Regions from separate parts of the Homo sapiens genome. Here region 2 is linked to region 1. Evidence: fine-mapped expression QTL. Tissue or cell type: nasal epithelium. Region 1 holds a variant in brackets; the other region holds the start of a gene. All regions are shown on one strand. Distances are between the middles of the regions.

Region 1 (8,135 bases):
TTAATTCAAAAGCCTCAGGGCCCCAAACAAATAATGAACAGGGACTGAGGAAACAGTGATTTGGAAATAAAACAAACAAGTATCCTCAATGTGTGGCCTTTATTTTTTGAGACAGTCTTGTTCTGTCACCTAGAGTGGAGTGCAGTGGTGTGATCTCAGCTCACTGCCACCTCTGCCTCCAGAGTTCAAGCGATTCTCCTGCCTTAGCCTCCCAAGTAGCTGGAATTACAGACATGCACCACTATGCCTTGCTAATTTTTGTATTTTTAGTAGAGACAGGGTTTCACTATGTTGGCTAGGCTGGTCTTGAACTCCTGACCTCAAGTGATCCACTTGGCTTCCCACAGTGCTGGGATTACAGGCGTGAGCCACCGTGCCCGGCCTAATGTGTTGCTTTTAAATAGAAGTCATTTAATGAACATAGCTCGTATTTGCTTAGCTTACTATTTTAAACAAATAAATATCATTAAGTGCAATGAATTGAGTGGGGTGGGGGCGGGAAGGCAGGAGTTCCAGGGAGGGAAGAGCCCGGAGAAGGAAGGGTGCAGGGCAATCAGCAGAGGTCAGTGCAGGTGCATTCTCCAATTACATCCAGGCTCTGGCTTCAGCTTTAACTCAACCACATCCATGCCCCTAGAAACAGCTAAAAATAAAGGCCTAACACAGCTGACCTCCACAAGGGGAAGTCTAGGGTCTCAAAGGCCAGGGGATGGGGTGGTTGCTGGGAACTGTATTGGCGGTGTGTGGCCCGGGCAGTGGGACTGACTGCAGAAGGAGGAAGCCAAAGGAAAGCGGGGATGCAAGGGGCAGGGGGCACAGGGTATGGGGCTTCTGGGTGCTGGCAATGAGCTGCTTCTTGAGCTGGGTGCTCACACAGGTGTGTTCTGCTAGTGAAATTCAACAAGCTGCACACTTATTTGTCCACTTTTCTGTATGTATATTATACTTTAATGAAAAGTTATTTTTAAAAAGTAAAGCAGAGTTCTTCCCAGCATAGCCTCTTTAAAGAAAAAAAAAAAAAGTAAGCAGAGGCTGAATTGCACTTAATTGTGAAGTTTTGTGTTTTAAGATTGTTTGAAAATTTAAAAACATTAGGTTAATATGTAAGAAGTCATTAGGATTCCTTAAATAATCAATTTTTCTTTTTCTTTTTTTTTTGAGACAAGAGTTTCGCTCTTGTTGCCCAAGCTGGAATGCAATGGCACGATCTCAGCTCACTGCAACCTCCACCTCCCGGGTTCAAGCGATTCTCCTGCCTCAGCCTCCCAAGTAGCTGAGTTTACAGGCATGCGCCACCATGCCCTGCTAATTTTTTGTATTTTTAGTAGAAACGGGGTTTCACCATGTTAGCCAGGCTGGTCTCGAACTCCTGACCTCAGGTGATCTGCCCGCCTTGGCCTCCCAAAGTGTTGGGATTATAGGCATGAACCACTGCGCCTGGCCAATTTTGCTATCTATCTATCAATCTTATTTATTTATTTGTTAAGAGACAAGGTCTCACTCTGTCGTCCAGGCTGGAATGCAGTGATGCAGTCATGGCTCACTGCAGCTTCAACCTCCTGGGCTTAGCAATCCTCCCATCTCAGCTTCCTGAGTAGCTGGGACTACAGGTGTGTACACTACCACGCCTTGCTAATATATATTTTCTTAATTTTCAAATTTTTTGTGGAGACAGTGGTTTGTTATGTTGACTAGGCTGGTCTTGAAGTCCTGGCCTCGAGCAATCCTCCCACCTTAGCCTCCCAAAGTGCTAGGATTACAGGCGTGAGCCACTGTGTTTGGCCCAGTTGAGCTTACTTTTTTTTCCCTGCAATATAGTTTAAAGAAATTAACTTGCTCACTTATCTAAGAAAGTAAAGAGAAAGTCTGGGGCACATCCCTTACCCCCCCGACCCAGGCCTACATAGGTCCTTATTTCTAGATTTTTTTCTTTACCATTTAAGATTTATGTGGTTGTCACTGGTGCCATAGAACAAGGAAAAAGATTTTTAAAAAATACAATTGGCAGCTGGGCACAATGGCTCATGCCAGCATTTTGGGAGGATGAGGTGGGAGGAGCACTTGAGCCCAGGAGTTCCAGGTGCAGTGAGCTATGATCATGCCATTGCACTCCAGCCTGGGCAACAGAGTGAGACCCTCTCTCCAAAAAAAAAAAAAAAAAAAAAAATTACAATTGGCTGGGATACCAGATAGTGTTTCAAAGGAATTTTAGGCTGATTTAATCATGTTAAATCATAAGTGGTAAGACAGGAATTATAATACCTCGAGGACTCAAAAGTTTCCAGAGCGGGCTCCTCCAGCTCCCCTGAGCCACTGGCTTCCCTTGCCTTGGGGAGTAAGGAAGCTCAGTGTCCACTCACCTTGTCTTGTCTGTCCAGGGCACACCCTTCGTGGATGAGCGCCGCGATGATCTCCGTGTTCCCCACCACTGTGGCCCGGTGCAAGGCGGTCTGGTCCCCCTGCAAAGTGACACAAAGGCAGGAACAGCAGTCAGCTCCCCTGCACCCCCTGCTTGCACTACTCACTTGACACTTGGACACAAGGACCCCTCCCGTCCCCACACAGAGCAGAGCGGTTATTCGCAGAAGGGCTTGGTTACCACAGGCAAGGCGGGCTTTGTGGTCTTGTTAGTAGACAACGCACGCTGGCAGAGAAATTTTGTTCATAAACTAAGAGGGGGACCTTAAGCCGACAGCAAGAATAGCCCTCGGCCACAGAGCCAACCTCAAAATGAGGGTCAGGCTCTCTCCTGCCATCCAGGGGCTATGACTATCACAGGTGTGAAGAGTGGGTGTGAGGGCAGGTGTGTGCTATGCAATTAAAGCAGCAATGCCTGGAATCTCTACTGCCTGCCGAGTTTCCAGCTTGCAGGGGGACCACTGTCCAGCTCTGCCAGTTAGCAGCACTCATGATTTGATGACAGGCGGGTCATTTGTTCATTGACCTGTACTAGTCAACGGCAATGCAGGGGTTTGCCCTATTTCATCTGAGGACTCCAGGGACTGCAGCTATCACTGCATATTTCTAAGAAGCCTCTTCAGAGAGTTCATGACAACATCCTCACTGATTTATGCTGCACTCTGAGCCCTCTTCTCTATGATCGGATTCCTGGGATTGCCGGCCGTTGTTCTCCTTTAGGCGCCAAAGGGAACTTGACTCTTCCTAATTGCAGTTGAGTGAAGGATGAAACACTCCCAGAGGTAAGCAGGTCAAGACTGTAACAGGAGAGTTCTGAAGTCTCTAAGAGCACCCTTTATCTCTGACAGGTCCTCAGGAAGCTAAGTTGAGGTAAATCAAGCTGAGCCTGTGGTCCAGCCTTGAAAGGGAGGATGGGTGGGCAGTGTGGAAATGTTCTGGTGGAAAGCAATGAGCACGAGACAAGGGGTCAGGAGGCCTGGGCTGTGCATGGCTTGCTAGAAGCCTGTCACCCTGCTGGACCTCAGGTGTGTCACCCTGGATGATCCCAGGGTCCCTCCATTGCCTTCTTGGATTCTATGATGTGGCTGGTCAGAGTTTTGTGAAGTTTCCTGGCAGAGCACCAGAGGGGCAAAGAAAACATTCTGGGGCGTCCCTGGTGCTTGGCCCAAAAGAGGACAGAGGCCATCATAAGATAAAACAGATTTTTTAAAAGAAGGATGCACTGCTACCTATAAACAACCTTAACGAAATACTGATTCTACTTACTAAACTCCCCAGATCTGTAACAAACAATGCACATTAAAAACATGTAATCTGAAACAAAGTTCTAAAGATAGATGGTGGTGATGGTTGCACAACAATGTGAGTGTACTTAATGCCACTGAACCGTATACGTAAATATGTTCAGACAGTAAATTTAATGCTATGTATATTTTATTACAATAAAAAATCCTAGTTAAAACTCAAAATTGCTTTCTTAAAATTAAAAAGTCTCCCTTTAAAAATCCATGAAAGGATTTTTCTCTTTTAACTTTTTATACTTTTTAATATTTTCCAGCTTTTTATATTTAACAC[G/A]GATAACTTTTAGCATCAGGAAAAACCGCTACTTATTAGAAGTCTGAGCAGAAACAATACCCCAGTAACAGGACTGTCCCTGTCACAGACTCTCTTCCCACTGTTCATTTGTGGAAGGTAAGGAATTTCTGCAGTGAGGGGGGGTCAGGACACTGAGGACAGATCACTGTCCTCAGCACTGCCACCACCGACCTCCCCCCTTCAGCATCCTAAACTATTATTCCTGTTATCAGTTAGGTTCAGGCTGATTTTCTTCTCATCCACCTTCCCAGACCCCTTATTCAAAGAGAACCCTTGCAGTGGTTAAAAAAAGAATGTGGCCGCTGGGTCAGTGGCTGCAGGAGGTAGGCTGTGCCATTTGCGCTGTCTACCTCAGACCTCTTAGAAAGCAGTTCTAGACAAGGAAACTAGTAATCATATGAGATACTGCCCAAGTCTCAACTTTTTGTTTTTGTTTAGAGACAGAGTCTCGCCCTGTCGCCCAGGCTGGAGTGCAGTGGTGCCATCTTGGTTCACTGCAACCTCTGCCTCCCAGGTTCAAGCGATTCTTCTGCCTCAGCCTCCAGAGTAGCTGGGATTACAGACACTTGCCACCATGCCTAATTTTTTTTTTATATTTTTAGTAGACATAAGGTGTCACCATGTTGGCCAGGCTGGACTTGAACTCCTGGCCTCAAGTGATCTGCCCACCTCCACCTCCCAAAGTGTTGGGATTACAGGCGCGAGCCACCGTGCCTGGCCCCACGTCTCAACTTTTTAAAATTTCCGTAAGATTTCCAAGACTTCCCATTTCTCTATCAGAATGGTGACGGAATTTCCCAAAATAGGCCTCCAGTGCAATGATGATTACTGACCTGCTAAGAAAGACAGTGCCCTTCTTAGCAAGAACCACGCGACTGCAGCTCACGCTTTCAGGGTAGTGCTGACTTGGTTAGATTTCCACTTCTTACAGGCTTTTTAATATAACCACAAACTACTTACACTCTAGTGCTCTTTGGACCAATAAAAACAACTTTTTCCAGGACAAAGCTTATCACTCTGTATTGTTCATGAAGTATGAGCAACAAGCCCTGAGCATATGGGTCGTGTTAGCCACTCTTGCTGTACAAATTATTTCACGAAGGGCCTTCACTGGATGGTACGGCACAGACTAACCTAAGCCTTGGTTTAGGTCAAATATTTTTTGTCATGTTTCACAAGCTGCCCTCTAAATTATGAGTTGAGGTATCTTTGGAGCCGGAATGGCACCAAGTTATTTATTACTTGCTTTCATCATCAATCTACTGTATTTGCTTCCTTTGAGAAAATTTTCCTTTGTGAAACTCTAGCTCAATGCAAGCAGCTCAATCTAACTTTCAGTTCAGACCTTGGGAGGACATTTCCAGACTAGCAAGACTCAAGGAAATCTAATGACTTGTGTGAGGTTGCGGCGAGAACACATAGTGTCCTAAGCTGCTGGCAAAGGTCCTGCACACCCCTTCCTCTGGGGGACCTTTTGGCTGTCCTGCCTGTTTCCAGGCCACAGCTCCCCCTCCAGCCGTCCTCTCAGACAGAGACCTCACCGAGAGCCCGGGTCAGATAAACACTGCTGTCAGGCCAGGCTCGGACTCTCCCTACCAAAAGTGGCTGTCCTTGGCTGTACTGCTAGCTGTGCTGACACTAGCTGGAATGGTTCTGGAGGACTGGGCAATACGCTTTCTCAGGCTTTGAAAAACCCACCCTTCTCAAGTAACCAAGATGAGAATTAAAGGCTCTGAGGTGAGAGACATGAAACATGTAAACAATAGCTGCCTCAGGTTATCATCTTGGATCTATTCTTCCCTAGAATACAACACAAACAATTTAGTACCTTGAGGCCCTCAGTTGAAACAGGGTCAGTTATCTACAAATGGACTCTTTCCTCCTATAAGATTAAAATTTACCATTGAAACATTTCCTCCTTGAAATGACACGAAGAAACAAGATGTGGCCTCAATACATACAAGTGGCTACTTTGACATAATTCTTACTTGCATATGATACCTACCTAAGTCAATCATGAAATTCTTAAATGCTGGGAAAAGGTAGAGCACTCTCAACAGTGTTTACTGAATTATCTATTTGGTGAACATCCACTCATTTTGAGACAGGGTCTCACTCTGTCACCTATGCTAGAGTGCAGTGGCATGATCTCAGCTCACTGCAACCTCCACCTCCCAGGCTCAATCAATCTTCCCACTTCAGCCTCCTGAGTAGCTGGGACCACAGGCATTTGCCACCATGTCCAGCTAATTTTTTTATTTTTTGTAGAGATGGAGTTTTGCCATGTTGCCCAGGCTGGTCTCCAACTCCTGGGTTCAAGCAATCCTTCCTCCATAGCCACGCAAAGCACTGGGATTACAGGTGTGAGCCACCAGGCCCGGACTGAATATTTATTGACTCCCTACTGTGTGCCAAGTCTAATTCTCTCATTTTATTGATGTCTAATTCTCTCATTTTATTGATAAGCCTAGGACAGCATGCTTGGACCAGAAATCAAATTGTCAAGGCTCTTTGCACTCACCCCAAGCTGCTTCCAACCTGTGAAGTCATTAACCTTAGGACGAGCCTCAGAAAAGGTCAGATGCATCTGTGGGGTTGGGACTGCCTCTTTCATAAAGTAAAGCATAGCCACTAGAGCTGCCCCAAAAGCATTTGTTGAATGATTAACTACAAGAAGCAGAAGGAAAGATGCTGTAGCTGGAAACCTGAAGGGCCTGCAACCTTGCAGTTTGGCACTTTGATTTGGAACATGTTGACCCATTTGCGAAGTACGTGAACTGCCAGCTCTCAGTTTTTCTGAGACAGTGTTTCTCACTTTGGGATTTTAAGAGCTTTGGTGCCTATAAGGTCTAAATCTTTGTTTTGAAATACTGTTATTTTTCTTTCCTACATGGTGAAAAAGAGTGAGTGTAGTGTTGGCAGATTTCAGTCATGCAAGGGTGCAGTGTGCGCCTCTTCAAGAGGAAACACCCCCATGTGGCACAGGCAGACATACTGCAAGGAAGCTCAAGACAGGTTAGGTGTGTAAAGCAAGTTGCTGACCTCTTTTTCTCTCTCTGATCTTCTAGGGTCCTTCCTAACCTTCCCTCTGTGGTTTTTCTTATTTTTGTCTTCTTTCATGGCTTTCACTGTGGCCACAGCATCCTGGACTATTTCTGAGGCGGGAGCTATGTGATTGCTCATTGACCAATCAGAGATGGCATTAGCGCTCCAATGAGAGTTGACACGATTGGCAGGAAGCAAGAAAGAATTTGCTCCTGGAGTTGCATAATCTAAAGAACTGGTTTCCACAGGTTGAAATTCATAATAATCCCACTCCAGGCCACTGGAGGTCATTCTTCAACTAATTCTCAGTTCTTACCATGCCATAAAGATCAGTATCTGTAGAATATGAAGTTAGGAGTAAATTCTTCATATCATTAACATTCTCTGTTTCTACCCACCATCCAAGACAGGTAACTTCTGAGATTTTTTCAAATAACTGATCTCCTAGATTCTTTAAAGGACACACATCAAGAGTTTTCTTCCTTGATTTCTTGCATGTATTTCAAGGCTGGTCATCAACAGCATGGTAAATACACAGAGAACAGGCATGGATCATATTGCTGGCAAATGCATTTCTTCAGAACTAGTGAAGGTCAATTCTACCTTCTCCACTCCCAATTATTTCTTGTTGTTGTATTTTTATTTTAATTTATCTGGGAGAAGCAATATATGCATTGTCTCTCTAGGACAAGGAAAAGATGCAAGAAAATACCTTCAATAAATAAAAGGGACTCTCTCTGTCTAAAAGTAGAGCTGGCTTTTCTTCTGCTGACACGTCTCACTTTGGCTACCTAAGAAAATTCTTGCCTGTTTCACTTCCTACCTTGCCTGGTATAAACAGCAGCAGTTCTAGGAAATTAGCAAGGCTTTTGCTGCATGAGAACACAGTGATACTTAGAGCCCAGGATGTGAGGCAGGGGTGTCAAGTTGGAATGGGTTAGCATGCCTGGCATTTTGGCCTTGCCACTGTGGCAAGCAAAGCCTTTAATTATGCGAAGAGAAGACCAAATGCATCCCAACATGTTTGCACCAGTAATAACTCAATTCCCCACCTTTTCTGTGGCCAAAATCTTTTC
Region 2 (8,135 bases), 170 kb after region 1:
AAAATAAAATAAAATAAAATGAAACCAGTCTGAATGAGTAGAGACCTACTTATTAAGTAAATTCTGATATTTAACATCTTTTCTAACACTGTGTAAATTCTATAGCTCATCTGTATCACTGGATATGAAACAAGGTAGGACGTATTGTATGCTATATTTAGAATACATTTGGAACATAAAGTGTAAACCAGAAGACACTCTTAAAATTAAATTTGCCTCCCCCAAAGCAGAATGTACTGGACTTCAGTCATTCAGTACCATCTTCATGAGTTTTTCCATAGCTGTGTACCTAATATATTATTATTTACTTCATATTTTTCTAGACCTAAGGAGGGCACAGAGAGATGTGGCAGTTGTGAGACTTCAGTTCCACATCTGCCCTATTCAGAAGTCCAAGATGTTCATTCTGGGACTTCCTTTGGCTCTTGAGGAATTGGTCCTGGAGTTTTCAGGATCCAGATGAATAGCTGGGGGCTCTGAGGAAAAAGAACTGGTCGGGCTTATCTGGGGTCTGAGCAGAAAGAAAGCCTCTTGTAACTGGTGGGGGAAAGATATGTCAGAGAACTGAAATGGGATAAGACATCCAAATAAAGGGGCCTTTTATGGGGTGGGGGTAGGTAGGAATCTGTAAATATTTCCTTATAGCGCTTACTAACCTTTTTTGACTTAGGAAACCATTTGAGAATCTGATGAAAGCTATGGAACTTCTTCCCCCTCAAACATACATAAGAGCATTCACTTAAATACTTATACATAATTTTGGGAGATCTTAGAGTATTTGTAGCCCACCACTGAACCCCAGGTTAAAAATTCTTATTTTAGTGACAAATTTAATAGCTGATCCTCAGGTTTATAAAGGAACCCACCAGTAAATAATGCAGACACTTCCCTATAAAAGAGAGAGAACATAGCTATTTCTTCCATCTCTTCCCCCTTGACGGGATGAGGAAGAGCTGGGAAATAGAGATAATGTCACCCCTAAGCTTTTCTCTGCTGCTGTCCCTAACCTCAGTGCCTTGGTACAGTCCAGCAGTGGGGCACCATCAACAGAATTTGTTTTTAAAAAACGTTTAAAAACTTTATTTTGAAATAATATTAGTCTTACATAGAAGTTGCAAAAATAGTACATGAATTCCCTATTCTGTCCTCCCCCTACCCCTGGTAACTACCATTCTACTTTCTGTCTCCATGTGTATGACTACTCTAGGTACCTAATATAAACAGAATCATACAATATTGTCCCTTCTGTGACTAACTTATTTCACCTAGCATAATGTTTTCAAAGTTTACTATTTTGGACCCCCTGACTGGGTGTTTTGCAACTATAGCAAATTAAAATGGGCAATGTAGAAAATCTGAAAATTTCAATGGAAACTAGTATACCAAACATGTCTGGACACTGCTGAACCTATTAACTGGAGGTAGTTTGCAGTTTCAACAGTAGATCATGTTACATTCCTATCCAAGACAATACATCTTTGCAAAGCTGGGTTTTCTGTGGCTGCTGTGATAAAAGCCAAATGCTGCGGAAATATTAATGTGAAACAGGAAATGAGAGTGGCAGTGTCCAACACGATCCCAAGGTTTGAAAAGTAGTATAGGCACACACATACGGTTAGTAATTATGACTTTAAAGGATGTAAAATATTTTTTCTCTCAGTTTATGTATATTATTTTTTCAAACAACTTCTAAGTAAATACTCAGTTGTTTGAACCTAACTACTAACTACTGAAACCTAAGGGAATTGTGAAAAAATTACTAACTACTGAAGCCTAAGGGAATTGTGAAAAAATTAACTCAGACACTAAGGGCTCCATGAAACCAAGTTTCAGAATCTTTGCCTTAACCAAGAAGTAACAAAACAGTGTAAGATTCACCAAGGAAAGCCATGTGACCTTGAAGAAATAAAACAAAGACAATAACACAAACATATCAACCAGGAAGAGGAATTTGGGTTGTTAAAACCATTTTTAAAGGTCACTCTTAGCTTAATCCTTCAAATCCCACACAATGCCTTCTGGATAATTTGCATTTTTAAAAAAACTTCTAAAACGCACGCACCCAAATTACTGTTTTCCCACTTCTTAGGGACTCAAGCAAAGCTTTTAAAATCACAGCCATCAATCTATGTTGGAAGAGACTGGGTCTCCCCTACACAGACAGAACACACCTTCGGGATCCGTGCCAGGGAGACAGGAGAAACTTGGAAGAAGACAGAGACTAAAAGATCCCCCGACTTTGAGACTTTCGGCTTTTTTGTGGTTTGTATCTTACCCTCAATAGCCTGCTTTTAAGTTCAATAACAATGCTCCTTGAGAAAAAAAGAAAAATAAAGAATGCTCCAGGTTATTGTGGAAATGCTTGTTGGGAAACTTCCTTTCCTCAGGGTTTTTCATATAAGCAAGGGAAAAAGTTAACACAACATCCAGAATAGTGGTTCCTTGGGTGGGAGGCGAGAAGTGAGTGGAAGGCAATGGAGAGGGGTACTCAGGGGCTCCAGGGGCCTGGCGATGTTCTAGTTCTTCAGCCGGGTGACTCGTACTTGGGTGTGATCTATTGTTATTCTTTACATTGCACTCTAAGGTTTATACTGTCTGAGTGTATGATGTATTTCACAGTGGCAGCACCAGCATCTCTATACAAGAAGGAGGCCTTGGGAGTTGGAAGTGTGCCTTGTCTCTAAGCTGAGTTGGATCGCAGGCAGTCTGCTTTTACATGGAGCATATGCTTATCTGGAAAGGCTTTGGGGAGGCTGATGAGTTTAAGTGGGAGACTAAGATTAATTTTTGGTGCCACCATGAAAAAACAAGGAGTTAATAAATTCACATTTTTAAAAATTACCATTGGTTTATACCTCCCAACACTGCGACTAGTTGTTTTCTGGTCTCTTTAATTCCTCTTCATCCCTCTTCTACCCTTCCCCCATGTCCAGTATGACCTAGAGGGCAGAAAATACTCCCCAATTTTAATTTGTATCCCTAATTTTTAAAAAATTTTTTGTTACCATATGCTAAACAAATACTAAAGATGACAAAGTGTAACATGTATCGGTATAGACACACCTACTACACTCAAGAACAAGGCTGCAGACCAGTACAGTGGCTCACACCTGTAATCCCAACACTTTGGGAGGCTGAGACAGGAGGAGTTCGAGACCAGCTTAGGCAACACAGTGAGACTCTGTCTCTAGTAAAATAAAAAAATTCAAAATTAGCCAGGTGTGGTGGTCCCAGGCTGAGGTGGGAAGATCGGTTGAGCTAAGGAGGTCAAAGCTTACAGCCTGGGCAACAGAGCGAAACTCTGTCTCAAAACAACAACAACAAAAACCCCGCCAAGGCTGCTATTGGTGTTTTGGGGATGAGAAACCCCCAATCAGTATACCATGGATGGGACCACCTTGGACCCAGGTGTGTTTGTCTTCATTGCCCAAGTTCTTTCCACTTACACTGGCCTAACAGAACCTAAGCATGAATGAATTCAACATCCAACAGGTTCGCAAAAGGTGTCTAACACACAAGAGTACAATGCCAAGCATTTCATTCCCATCACTTCACTGCATGAACACAATACTACGAGGTTATGTACAATACCTGCAGTTTAGAGTTCTAAAAACTAAGGTTTAAAGAAGTGGGTTTTCCAAAGTCACACACCTAACAAGTGGTGGAGTCAGAACTCCATCTCACGGGCCCGAAGTGGCTCTTTACTACCACGTGACCCATCTCATGCTACCTCGCGGGGGAAACATTCTTGACCAGCTTTGAGACATTCAAGTCCCTCTTGGGTCACAAATAATGCTGCACTTCCCCTCCAGTCCCCGAGATCTACCGGAAGCAACACACTTAAAAGCCCAAGATAAGCTTGGGTGAGCTGATGTCTGGACCCAAACCAGACAGCACGCCGACTCTCTGGACCCCGGGAGATGCCACTTGCTGAGGCTTCGCCGATGGGGCTCCTGAGGGGTATCGGCCCCTCTCCTGCGACTGCACCCTAGTGCTGTCGTCCAGGGCGGGGAGGGACGGGGTCATTCGGAGGCGGCCGCAGGCCAGGGACCTACCCTCCTACGCGCCGCAGACCGCGGGGTACTCGGACCCCCGCCCCCACCGCCCTTCCTTCAAACTGCAAGCGAGCAGGAGAACGAGGGACGAGCCCCAGAAGAAAGTTCTCCACCTCCCTCGCCCGAAGTTCCATATTCCAGGGAGGCAACTGATGCCAGGCGAAGAGGGAGGCGCCCCGGGGGGACCCCCTCGCGCCGGGCGTTTTCGGAGGCCGCAGGCCAGGGGGCGAGGCGCGGTGTCCGGGTCTCCTCCGCGGGCAGTCGGCGATCCTGGGGTGCCGAGGGAGCAGCGCCCCCTTCCCCCGACAGCGTCCTCCCCGACCTGAGGCGCCCACCCCGGTGTAAGCGGGGGTCCCAGGGAGCCGGCGAGGTCGCCTGGTACCTTTCTCTCCCGCGCCGGACGTCCGCGCCGCAGGGACCAAGGCCGGCGACACGGTGGGGGGCGAGGGGCGAAGACGGGGACTGGCTCCCGCTGGCTCCGGCGGCCCCAGGGCCTCGGCGCCGCCCAGCGCCGTGCCTCCAGCCGCCCGCGCGCCAGGCAGCGCTCTCGGCTCCTGCGGGTTACCTGTGGCCGAGCCCGCCGCGTCCGCCGCCGCAGGGCCCTCTGCCCCGTCCCGCCGGCCCCGCCCCACCCCTGCCGGCGGCTCCTACGCCGGTGCCGCAGCGCCTCCCAGCGGCGAGCCGGGGCACGGCAGGGACCCTCGCGAGAGAGAGGTGGCACCGCGGAGGCCCTGGGGCTGGCCCCGATCTGCAGCCCTCTCCTGGGTGGGGCCACCGCCTTCTGAAGAGTGGGAGGAAGGGGGCCTATAGTAGGGTGAGGTTTTCCGCGTGGGGGTTGCCAGGAAGTGTATTGGGAGGGGAGGAGAATTAGCAGGAGGAACCTCCCACCTTCACTCAATTCGTGGCCAAGTGGATATTTCAATATAACCATAGCTCACTTAACTGGGGCTGCTCAGTACAAACTGAACAACAATGATGAATGACCCAGATTTATTGGGGTAGCTGGAGAGGGGAAAGGAAGCCTTTATTTCTAACAGCTTGACTATAAGTATCTTGTTGGAATCATCCCATATGGAAATGGCAAAAGCATTGAGCGAGCCTGACCCCCATATTCATATCACACTTTACATACCATTATCTCAGTCTGGTTTTGTCTATTTTCATTCACAGCCACTTCTTCAATACCTAGAAGAGCTCCCTGAACACAGGAAGCATTCAATAAGCTACTGTTGAATACATGTAAGATGGATGGGATCTCATTCCACCCTTTGAAGAAGCATGGACAGGTATCTGCTCTCCAAAGGCGGAGAGATGGAAGAGGAGGCAAGCAGCACCCTAAAATGGACTATCAATCTTACCTGAGGTTTTGGGACAAGCTTATCACGAATCTGATTTTTTTTTCTTTCTTGCTTAAAATTTTTTTTTGAGACGAAGTCTCACTCTGTCACCCAGGCTGGAGTGCAATGGCACCATCTAGGCTCACTGCAACCTCCGCCTCCCAGGTTCAAGTGATTCTCCTGCCTCAGCCTCCTGAGTAGCTGGGATTACAGGTGCCCGCCACCATCCCTGGCTAATTTTTGTATTTTTAGTAGAGATGGGGTTTCACCATATTGGTCAGGCTGGTCTCGAACTCCTGACCTCGTGATCCTCCAGCCTCGGCCTCCCAAAGTGCTGGGATTACAGGCATGAGCCACTGCACCCAGCCGACTTTTCTTATTCCCTCTGAAACAGGCCTGGTTTCCAGGAGAAAAGAAACATGATGATTTCTTCCTTTTCCTTAAGATGTTTGTTTCCCTCTCTCCTTCAGGGATCATTAGGCAGGAGAGATCCCAAGAGCCTGTTTCCACACTAGGAAGGGGAAGTTCTTGATTTTCTCCTACTGCTTCTGAAATTTTCCCAACCCCATAGTCACAGCTGCAGTTTTACCTAACAGGATGTGAAATCTCTCTTCTGAGTATCCTTTGGCCTTTTCCAGACTTTTTTTTCCCCCTTAAGATGGGGCCTTGCTGTGTCACCCAGGCTGAAGTGCAGTAGCCCACTGCAGTCTTGAACTCCTGGGCTCAAGCAATCCTCCTGCCTCTGCCTCCTGAATAGTTGGGATTACAAGTGTGCACCACCATGCCCAGCTAATTTTTTTATGTTTAACACAGAGGAGGTCAAGGCTGGTCTTGAACTCCTGGGCTCAAGTAATCCTCCGGCCTCAGCCTCCCAAAGTGTTGGGATTACAGGTGTGAGCCACCGCGCCCAGCCCTTCTTCAGATTTGTGCCCCATTCCTGTTGCTCTACACCTGGAGCTGATAGAAGAACACATTTCCTTTCTCTGCTGGCTTGTAGCTCCAGGTTTCTCTCCAGGCAGGTTACTAATGAGTTCCTAGATAACCCTCAAAGTCAAAGTTTGTACACATGACCTTTCTTTTTATTTTTTGAGATGGAGTTTTGCTTTTATTGCCCAGGCTAGAGTGCAGTGGTGCAATCTCGGCTCACTGCAACCTCCACCTTCCGGTTTCAAGCAATTCTCCTGCCTCAGCCTCCCAAGTAGCTGGGATTACAGGCGCCTGCCACCACGCCCAGCTAATTTTTTTGTATTTTTAGTAGAGACGGAGTTTCACCATGTTGGTCAGGCTGATCTCGAACTGCTGACCTTGTGATCCACCTGCCTCAGCCTCCCAAAGTGCTGGGATTACAGGTGTGAGCCACCGCGCCCAGCCACATGACCTTTCAATGTGATCATTTCTCTCTTGTACTTTTCCACATTGAGTTTTCCTAGCTAGTCCCTCGAATAAACTTCCAAAGATGCAAATGCTCAGTTTCCCTGATAGGCTTTTAAAACATCACCAGAAAGTCACATTGAGATGAGATTTTAAGTTATATTTGTGGGTAGTCAGAGCAATGACCCCGAAAGAAACAGAAAGCCCAAGCCAGCCTGCAAGACATGTGAGCGCTCCTGGGAACTGACTGGTCTGCTTTTGTTCCCAGACTTTGATTAATGGGGATTCCTGGCAGGAGGTCTCATGAGAGCCAAAGCAGGCAGTGGCTGAGCTGCTTGGAGATCTTGCTTGCTTATCTCCAAGTGGGCAGACAGTCTTTGGGCGACCAACGAAGAAGACTCCTAAATCTCCCTCTTTATGAGAAGGGCTCCCAGGCTGCAGCTCTGTTCTTGCCCCTACGTTCAGCTCAATCACAGCCAGCCTCTTATATTCACCCTAGCTCACCCTCCTTCTGCCTTGTGAGAAAGAAGTTTGCTCTGCAAATGATCATTTTCACTGCTTTGTGATAATATAATCTGCTCCTATTTTCAACAACATGTCTTTAATGAGCTGACTGCATTAGCTGTCTTTCATGTTGTTAGCTTCAACGCAGCCTTCAACACACCATTCTGGCTTCCATCCCTGCCACTCCACTGAAACTGCCTTTGCTAAAGCTTCCACTCAAGGAAGAACCCTTCCATCTGCCGCTCTATAATCATATCCTTCTCTTTCAGAGGAAACCACCATCCTAAGTTTTGTGTTAATAATTATGTTATCACAAATATATGTGTCCCTAAACACTACATGGTTTGTTTTTGCGTGTTTTTGAGCTTTTTTAAAATAGAATCATTCTGCATTATTCCCATGCAACTTGCAGCTTTTGCCCAGCATTATGTTTCTGAGATTCACCTATCTGATTTCTCTGTTATATAGGTATTTTGTTGTAAAAACATAACACAATTTAATTACCCATTCTACTTTTGGATGTTGGATTGGCTCCAGTTTTTGCTATTGCAAACAGTGTTGCTGTGAATATTCTTAAATATTTCTCCGATACATGTGTGTAAGAATGTTTTTTAGGATATATACCTAGAAGTGGAATCATCAGGTCTTAAGGTAAGTGCACGTTCAAATTTACTAGGTAATGTCAAACTGTCTAAACTGGTTGTTTTCTAAAATTGTTTTCTAAAGTGGTCATACCAATTTTCATTTCTAACACCTGTATATGAAAGTCATCTGGCCGGGCATGGTGGCTCACGCCTGTAAATCCCAGCACTTTGGGAGGTCGAGGCGGGTGGATCACGAAGTCAGGAGATCGAGACCATCCTGGCTA

What was found. PIP is the estimated chance that this variant, and not a neighbour inherited with it, causes the effect.
Region 2: it holds the start of ANKRD6, and the variant in region 1 is fine-mapped to the expression of ANKRD6 in nasal epithelium (TOPMed, PIP above 0.99).

What each region holds. Positions count from the first base shown.
Region 1 is chr6:89,597,353-89,605,487 of GRCh38, reverse strand. ANKRD6 (ankyrin repeat domain 6) reads right to left here. Exons shown (of 16, transcript NM_001242809.2): 4 at 2,361-2,459. LOC124901359 (a long non-coding RNA gene) reads left to right here. Exons shown (of 2, transcript XR_007059673.1): 2 at 1-84. Among named protein-coding and RNA genes, the nearest start is that of MDN1-AS1, 37 kb to the left of the region's middle. The variant G/A (reference allele first, on the strand shown) is at 3,994.
Region 2 is chr6:89,429,678-89,437,812 of GRCh38, reverse strand. It overlaps ANKRD6 (ankyrin repeat domain 6), which reads right to left and starts at 4,661. Exons shown (of 16, transcript NM_001242809.2): 1 at 4,438-4,661. It overlaps LOC124901360 (a long non-coding RNA gene), which reads left to right. Exons shown (of 2, transcript XR_007059675.1): 1 at 1-4,396; 2 at 5,226-7,605. RefSeq lists a silencer at 4,390-4,869.